Homo sapiens: one gene and its partner. The protein of the gene in region 2 purifies or fractionates together with the protein of the main gene of each other region. This does not show direct contact. Each region holds a gene or a part of one and is shown on either strand. Other genes may lie near its edges.

Evidence for each region. The genes of interacting proteins can lie anywhere in the genome.
Region 1: the proteins of MAN1A1 (region 2) and GPC4 purify together in Homo sapiens (affinity purification with mass spectrometry; one large-scale study listed by BioGRID and IntAct). This does not show direct contact.

Annotation. Positions count from the first base shown.
Region 1 is NC_000023.11:133,408,116-133,412,489, forward strand, and holds part of GPC4 (glypican-4 precursor), read right to left. Parts: intron 1-4,374. UniProt on the Homo sapiens protein: Cell surface proteoglycan that bears heparan sulfate. May be involved in the development of kidney tubules and of the central nervous system.
Region 2 is NC_000006.12:119,189,262-119,194,510, forward strand, and holds part of MAN1A1 (mannosyl-oligosaccharide 1,2-alpha-mannosidase IA), read right to left. Parts: intron 4,632-5,249; coding exon 4,516-4,631; intron 623-4,515; coding exon 403-622; intron 1-402. UniProt on the Homo sapiens protein: Involved in the maturation of Asn-linked oligosaccharides. Progressively trim alpha-1,2-linked mannose residues from Man(9)GlcNAc(2) to produce Man(5)GlcNAc(2).

The DNA of each region.
Region 1 (4,374 bases), on a different chromosome or scaffold from region 2:
GAATCGCTTCATGCATTTTCTGCACTTTCATGTTCTCTATAGTAAGCAACAGATGTTTAACCAAGTAGATTTGAAAATGCTAGTTTTTACCTGTTTGTATTTTAGTATGTCTGTTTATTTATATAAAATATTCTGATACCCTTCAAAGCTTGTGTTCTTCTTGGTAAAGACAATAAACTTGAGTTTTTTTATGTTAAAAGGTAACTGATGCACACTGAACAGTTGCATGTGGTAAATTTGCTCTAAATTGCCTAATCACAACAGTCTCAACTGTTCATTCTTTAAAGAAGTGTATCTCAAGGCATTAAGAAAAACAATTCTGAATCTTTCTGAAAAATTCCTGGCCAGTGCAGTAGCTCATGCCTGTAATCCCAGCACTTTGGGAGGCCGAGGTGGATCACCTGAGGTCAGGAGTTCAAGACCAGCCTGACTAACATGGAAAAACTCCATCTCTACTAAAAATACAAAATTAGCCGGGCATGGTGGTGCATGCCTGTAATCCCAGCTACTCTGGAGGCTGAGGCAGGAGAATGGCTTGAACCAGAGGCGGAGGTTGCGGAGAGCTGAGATCGTGCCATTGCACTCCAGCCTGGGCAACAAGAGCGAAACTCTGTTTCAAAAAATAAAAAAAAATCCTATAAGCATTCAGTTATTAATGAAGTGGTAAAGACAAGTACTCCCCCAAAAGAATAAAAACGTTCTCCAAGCTATACCAACATATGCATATTTACTTTAAATTTATTTCACTTCAAAGTGTTTAGATACAGGCCTGGAATGGTGGTTCATGCCTGTAATTCCAGCACTTTGGGAGGCTGGATCATTTGAGGTCAGGAGTTCTAGACCAGCCTGGCCAACATGGTGAAACCACGTCTCTACTAAAAATACAAAAATTAGCCGGGTATGGTGGCACACGCCTATAATCCCAGCTACTCGGGAGGCTGAGGCAAGAGAATCCTTTGAACCCAGGAGGTGGAGATTGCAGTGAGCCGAGATCACGCGACTGCAATCCAGCCTGGGCAACAGAGCGAAACTTCATCTTGGAAAAAAAAAAAAAAAATTAGCCAGGCGGTAGTGGCTCATGCCTATAATCCCAGCTACTCTGGAGGCTGAGGCAGGAGAATTGCTTGAGCCTGGGAGGCAGAGGTTGCGATGAGGCAAGATCACGCCACTGCACTCCAGTCTGGGCAACAGTGAGACCCTGCCTTAAAAAAAAAAAAAAAAAAAAAAAAAAAAAAAAAAAGTGTTTAGATCCAAAAGATTCCTAGGAGATCAACAGACCATGGAATGACAATCTATCATCAAGGCAGTATAATCTCATTGTAGCACTAGTGTCTGACAGAGAACACAATAGAATTGGCTATGTTATTCTCCCACTTGTTTAACAAATATTGCACTGACCTACCACACTTGGTACTGCTACCCACAGACAAGACGAGGAGTTGTCATCTTTGCCCTCAAGTTGCTTCCAGTTGAGAAGACAAACACGTACCTGCACACACAGTTAACTATAATACAAGGCAGTTATGTACAAAGACCATGGACTGGTTCCAACAGGGAATTAGGAAGAAGTGGGCACATAACCCTGGAGAGTTCAGAAGTGACTCAATGAAAGAAGTATCATTTGAGATGCTTGGAGCCACTGAAGCTCAAAGCACAGGAATAACTCTAATCAAAGCAGTGATGTAAGGAAATTAAGCTGGCGATGTTCAGGATAGAACAGGGATTTAGGAGGGGGGGACAGACAAGAGGCAGGTAGACCAGTTAAGAACTATTTAAAAAGAGTCTGCTGACAGACCTCCCTGTCTTTATCTCTTGCCTCGCCAACCCTTAACCCAAAGAGCCACTAGTTATCTTCCTAAAACAGCTTGACTGACGACATTCCCCTCCCTCAGAAACCCTCATTGGCTCAATTGTATTGTCCAGGAAATACAATTTATATTCCTTCTACCATTAACACTAGATTGTCTATGTCTGGGTTTGACATTTTGTCTACAAAAGATGTGACTGGATCCTCTCCACTATAACACGAAAATTGTGCCGTTTTGATGATGGTCTGTTACTAGTTAGCTGAGGGTCCTCCCATACTTTATATCTCAACAACCTCTATGGGAATAGAGAAGGTACTTTCTTGTCTTACTATCTGTACAACATAGCATGAACTATACTCTAGAACAGATAAGACCTGGGTTCAAATCCCACCTCTGTTATTCATTAGCTATAAGATTGTGAACATATTTCATAATCCCTTTGAATTTGTTTTCTTGTCTATAAAATGGAGATGATAATTCTGATGTCATATGGTTGTTGTGGGTTTTAAATGAGACAATCATGTAAGTTCCTTGGTATAGGGCCAGGCCCAGAGAAAGCATTCAATAGCTACGAACTCTTATCATGAGGCCAAAATACATTTTTAAAAACATAAATAAGAAAAAAACCTCAGTGCTAAAACAGTTAATGTCATTGGGGAGCCAGAGAGACTCACTTCCAACTGCCTCAGATTAACGCCAATGTTGTTTCCCTTGTACACATAACAAAAAACTTCCTTTTTCATTCCTCAGTCTAGTCTCCAGTTAATCCTGAAATTGCATGCAACCCAACGTGAATCAAATAAAAAAGGAAAACAGTAATTATGCTGAATCAGACATTTTATATTTATATGTTCTAACCAGAGACTGAGCTGCATAAGCCAGAACTTTAACTAAATTCTTTTTTGAACATGTCCAGAAGATACCTCCTGTAAACTACTTGGGACAATTTCTACAGTGATAGGCCCTGTGGCTCAATTCGACCCTCCCCAAGTGAAACACAGAGCCAAATTGATGATTCCAACAAAACAGGAGATCACAGATTCATTGCAAAATCCAACACATTACTTACGGTGGGGAAGGCGGAATACAAATCTTAAAGACACATGCTGTGTGTCATATATAATCAACTCACTATTAGAAAGTATTGCTACCTCTCCAACACACATACACACGTACTTTTTTTCCACGTAGTCATAACAGCTTATAGGAGTCCTGGAATCCTTTGTGCATGTACATATGTATGTGTGTGTGAGCACATGATCATAGGTGCATTGCTCATGAACACAGAAGGGAACAAGAAATAAAAACTCCAAAACTGCAACTAGGGCACAAAGTTCTGAGTATCATTCAATGTCATTGTGAAGAGGACCTTTGGCAAGTTCATGAATGCTTCTAACCCACTGCCTCACTCTTAAAAACAATTTCAACATAGATGAGTAATAAAATGCCCATTGTTGCATACCCTTTACCTTTGTCTTTATGGAGGGAGGCATAATGAAAATGGTTAGATTTTTAAACTTATCTTCATTAGTATTTTCATTTTTACTAGTGAACTAGCTTTACCCAGTTAATATTCTATAGTATTAGAGTCCTAAATCCCTTCTCTCTTTGAAATGCCTGGGCACTCCCTTCTCGTCATCTGTATCGCTTGTATGGCACTTATCACCACTGTGTTGTATTCTAATTTTGTGTGTGCGTGGCTTATCTCCTTACTAATAGGAAAGGTCCTGGTGGCAGAAGCCCCTCCTGCCTTTCTTGCTGTCTCCACAATGCTGAGCAGAGGATACTGCACATAGTGGGCGCTCCAAAAGTACATGGCCATTGAAAGCTGAACAAAAACATAATCTTTGTGTTAAAGATCCCTTTTGATCATGGCACCTGGACTCAGCATTATTTGAAAAGTACAGGGGTCAAGCAGACAGGCAATGCAGGACCTCAGTTGGAAGCCCTGTCAGCATGATGTACTCCCTGACACCCTTGAGAGCACATCAGATGATCCTAACTATGATCTATAAAGACTGAGACTCCTCCAGAACATGGAGTATTCTTAAAGCCTGTTCAAACCTCTAGAAGGCAAGTGCAAGGCCATCTGGAATAAAACATTAAACTTGGGCTGAGCCTGGGGCTCAATGAGCTAGGTACCCAGACTTTGTGATACTTCACCTGGAAAATGATCCTGGGTGTTTTGCACTGAAAAAAGCACATTCCCCATCCCAGGCAAAGTGCCTGGCAATTAATCCATCCAGACCTAGGCTGAATACAAGTCACTATATTGACTATCCCCCTTAAAAAATGACCAAAATTATCTGAGTGTAGCTCAGAGAAGACAAGGCTAATGTATGCATCTGGAGAGGCCAGGGTGATGGTAAAGATTACGCCTGTTTCTATACTGGCCGTCTAAAGGTATTTACTTGGGTCTGTCTGTGTTGTGACAGTGTCCTAGACTCAAATGAATGCCTCTAACACTCCACATTTTTGAGCCATTCAGTCATGCATTTTTGTTATTGTTGAAAGTGGTGCGAAATTGCACTGCATGAGCTAAAGTCCTTGGTGGTCTTCCAAGGAT
Region 2 (5,249 bases):
TTGTGTTTCAAATTCCTATTTTATAAGAAGGGAGTGGGATTCATGATCTGTTTCATGGGGGATGTGGAGAAGATTAATAATGGTTAATAAAATGCTAAGTTTCTCTTTGCAGGGAGATAGAGACCCTTGCCCAATGTTATTGGCAAAAGCAGAAGTCAGTAAATTAGGCTGGCTTTAACTCTTTATGGCCTGGATTTTTGTTTCTTGGTAAACTAAAGGTAGATATTTTTAGGAAGAAAAGCATTGCCTTTTAAAATAAAATATACATTCCTTTGAGACATTAATCACGATCATCAAGCTTCATAGGCAGAGCGGATAGTCTTTTGAGGGCAGCAATGACAAAACTGCATTAAATCAAAGCATGTGGGAATAGACCATAAATGAAGAATAACATGTACTCACATGTTCGATTATATGATTCATGACAAGTACGGGCAATTTCAGCCCCGAGTTCAAGGTAGTGTTGGGCCATGCCTTCGGGAGCTGCATCAGCCCCGAGTGCGAACATGCCCCCCGCGAAGCAGGTCAGGTGGCCCATCTTGTGCTCCAGGAGGCCCCCTTTCCACTCTGCGATATAAGTTAGTCCGCTGCTAGACTTGCGGATCAAATGAGTCTCGATAGCCTGTGAAAAACACTTATTTTTTAACATTTTGTAATCTCTTCTCAAATTTATACTAAAAATATGCCCAACATTAAAAAAAAAAGAATAGAATACACCTGACAATCAGAGTTTGGTGTTAAAAATCCATTCAACCTGAAATTACATGCTATTGCTTTCTGTATTCCTCCTCTAGTTTATGCCTTATTTGTTTGATTAGTCAGAATTAACACTGCTGCGCCAGCACATTTGGTTTTGCTTGGTTCTGTGACCAAACATTGTATTCCTCATATTCAAAAAACTTTCTCCTTCCCAAAGACAGGCCACTGTGCAGCAGTAATAGTTGGTTTGGTACATTTTCATTTCCATAAGTGGTGAAATAACACAGCCCAGGCCCTAAGGTGGATGAAGAACACAGCATATTTGTGCATGAGATCCAGGATGGTGGCAGAACTCTTCCTTTCACTTCTGTAGGCTTGGAGGGATAACAAAATAGAGTGGCAAAGAGGAGGTGTTCTGGGGCCAGAAGACTTGGCTTCAAATTCCAGCTCTGACACTATCTCTAATTTGTGGGAGTGAACAATTTGCTTACTATATCTCTAAATCTCAGCATCCTAATCCATAAATGGGAACAACAGGATCTCCTGATACGACTCTGCCACATTTTGTTTATAAAGCAGTCACTAATGCAAGTGGCACTTGATAAGAGTCATTTATAATTATCATTTACATCTCCAAAGTGGTGACGCTTGAATCAAGTTCCTCTCTAATACTTCTATTAAAAAGCACACTATTATATAATGAATAAATGTATATATTTTAAAAATCAGAAAAATCTTTAAATTTGGGAGAAATGATAATGTTTACAAAAATGATTTATAAAACATCTTTTATTTCTATCCCAGGTCTGTTGATATTCTCTTAAACTAGACAGGTAAGTAAAATATGCCTTATATTTTAAAAAGCAAAAATAAAGTGTGTTTGGCATTGCTAATCTCCAATTACTCTAACAGAAAATGTTCTCCCCACTGCCCCACAATTACTTCATGGAAGGAAAAAGGACATGACTGTGTCTATACCTGTACACTGCTATCAAGAGAGAGGGATTTGTTAGGAAGCACATTTGGGAATAATAGACACAGAAAAAAACTTGTGATAGAGAAGAATGAATGAAAATGAACACACAGGAAGCTAAAACCTTTCCTACCTTTATTAGAAATAAACGAATGAAACCAAGATGGTAAGAAATAAATGAACATATTACTGTGCTCATTAACCGTGGTTAAGCTAATGTTATTGATGGTTTAGTTATTACATTAATATTTCATTCTTATTTTATGCGACTGAACATCTTAGCTATTTATACTTCTCATAACACAAATTGCAATAAAGTCCTTCAAGCAGATACTTGTTCATCACCTAAGAAATTATTCTTTCTACATGGCAAGAGTAGTAGCTTTTGAGGATGAATTAGAGAAACATTATTACCCTGTTATGGATCCTAAATAAAGTATTTCTGGCATGATTCGGACCAAGTTGCTACCTCCTAATAAAAACTACAATGAAATTCCAAGACCTTCAAAGCAATAATTTTGTGTGGCCATGGGAAATATAAATAAATACAAAGAAGGATAGTCTTTAGTAGATCTGAAAAAACTGTGTCAAGGATACAGATAATTGATTAGAAAAAAGAGTACTATATATTTTGTGATTTAATCCTTGTATAATTGATTTAAAAAACTGGTTTGATGAAGCCTTCAGAATCGTAAGTGTCTGATATGTCTTCTGCCCAGGTATCATTTGCCATTGTGAGTTCCTAGTGTAGTCTCCAGATAGGGCCATGATAGCCAGTTGAAAGCTCAAAATATTTTGTTATTAAAATAATCAAATAAAACATATCACTCTGGGATTAAATGCTTCCCAAAATCTACTTGAAGCTACAACAGAGTAGCCATATCTTCAGTAATCAATTGTCCAGAACAATAGTGTACAGCATCCTCCCCTTGGTTACAATAATCTTCTAAAGTACAACTTAGCAGAAATAAACTTTGCTGTATAAGACAATGCTACTTCTCAAAACAGAAATTTAGTTGTTCTAGCTTTGCTTTCTAAGTTGAAAATATACAGTGGATTGAAAATTAGCTTTTACTACTAAGAGAAGCAGGAAACACTTTGACTTCATTTGTTCTTAATGGATTTTCCTGTCAATGATTTGTCTGAATACAATATACTAAAAGTTGTGTGGGTATGGTTTTAGGAATTAGGAAGAAAATATTTCAAATAATATTTTAAAGCTGTCTTTTTTTGAACATCAAGATCTTAGACGGCCAATTTAAGATTAGAATAATTAAAATGTCTGCCAGTATGGTAATTAGAGGATGACAGAATGGAAACTATAAAATATGGAGAACTCCCCAGGTTAAAATCTGAAACCTCACAGCAATGAGGAAAAATAAACCTAAAAGAGGCCATGTGGATCATATCCTAGTTTGCTTTTGATGTTAATCATGTGCCTTTATAAAGGCTGTGCCAAATGTAGGCCAACGTTCTCACTAAGGCGCTTCTGGTTCCTACATGTGAAGTAGTGAAGACTTGTAAAGGAAACCAATGTCATACTCAGTGTAGTTAACCAGAACAAAGCAAGCTGCATTTATATTTAAATAAAAAAGTACGCCTATGTCAAAATAACCCAGACCTCTTGTTAGAAAGACCAATTTTATAATGGCTACATCTTTGGGATTACAAATTTCCATTTTTTTCCTATGAATTAACACTTTATTAAAAAATTTCTAAGCTGTCAAGAAAAATAAAATTTTTCTGAGGACTGAGCCACTATTTTACAACACTACTTGAGAAGCCTTGATAATAATATTAAAAGAATATATGTATTACCACATAAAATACTTAATCGCAAAAGCACCTGATTCCACTAAAAAATTTTGTTCCTGAAGAGTACAAATATTTTAGATAAAGTAATTTTCTTTCTAACTTTATTTACTTTCTAACTTTATTTTCGGTTTTGATTGAGGCTTAACTGGAGGTGTTTCTTAGTTTACTTTTATACTAGCCTCCTCCTAGAGACTTTAAGTAGTTTCTAACTTACCTTACTAACTTACTGCTTGCAAATTAGTAAATGAAGATTTAAGTGTAGAATGGAAATTCTTACAAATAAATCCACAGTGGATGAGTTAAAAGGAACAGGTGCTGATATAGACAAACTTTAATCTTAATTTTGGTTCGACATGTAATCTCTCTGAGGTACAGCAACTTTATCTGTAAAACTGGGTAATAATCTCAAGTACTGTGAGAGAGAAAAAAACCCAACTCCACCGCTTCATTTAAAGGAGCTACCTAACACACAGCTTAGCACATGGTAGGCAATTCAACACTCAACTGTTGCCTCTTACTTCTCCACTGTAAAGAATCTTTGATACTATTAATGATCTTCCCTGAAATATGAGTTTGTTCAGATTTTTATGTGTGGATTTCCTTAGAGTACTGTCCATTTATCTCTGGGGACAAGTTTACTTCACATGGAGGTAGCCATTGGGACTGTCTGTCTTCTCAGGCAATTTTAACTTAGGCAATTGTCAGAATACAAATTCAGGATTTCCCCCTGCATAATTTAAATTGTGGTCCTAAGGAGAGAATTCATATTTATCAAAGAATACTACTTTTTCAGATATGTGACTCTTAACTGAGGTTTAAACCATGCAAAAACTTTAACGGCCCTATTAGAAATAAACATCAAATATGATTACCATTATTACGATGATATTAGCAGATATCGAACTCTACCTAATTGGAAATACTTTGTAACTCACTCATGTAGTATACCACTTATTCATTAAAACTTGATTAATATACAAATTATAAGTTAGGGCTGAGTGGCAAAGATGATTTAAATATTGGGTTACCTGAACAGCATCAAAATACATCTTCTTAGCTTCCAGATCTGTCTTGTCAGACATTAACCAGGCCTTCAGCAAATACTCATAGAAGCTGTCTCCAAGTCCTCCAACTGATACATGATCTGGAAAGAGAGGGAAATGAATTTTAGAGTGATTCAGCTTTTAATTCAGATAATGCAGCAAAATCACATTAGCAACTAGGATGCAACCCTATGTCAACTGCAAGTCACTGTTACATTTAAATTCCAACAAATCTCTTATTTTCAGAAAGATATTCTGAAATGAGCAGATGGGCTATTAACTAATGTAACATACTCTAAATAATTACCAGAGTAGTTTTGTAAACATGGAAGATAAAAGATATGTAATTACCCCTAATTCTAAAAATCTGGTTCTCTAGTGAAAAACACCCAACTAAAATGTTCACAGTATATATTTAAATACATTTTTATTTGCTTTAGTTCTGAATAATATAAAATTCTGGCAAAGCTATGAGTATTAGCAAATCTTTTTTAGAAGGTGGTTTGTAATAAATAAAACAAGAAGCTCCTCAGGTTCTTGCCATTATTATTATTTCTAAACTCACTCTGTCACCCAGGCTGGAGTGCAGAGGCACGATGATAGCTCACTATAACCTCGAACTCCCGAGCTCAAGTGATCCTCCTGCTTCAGCCTCCCAAGTGGCTGGGACTACAGGCACGCATCACCACGCCAGGCTCATTTTTAAATTTTTTGTAGAG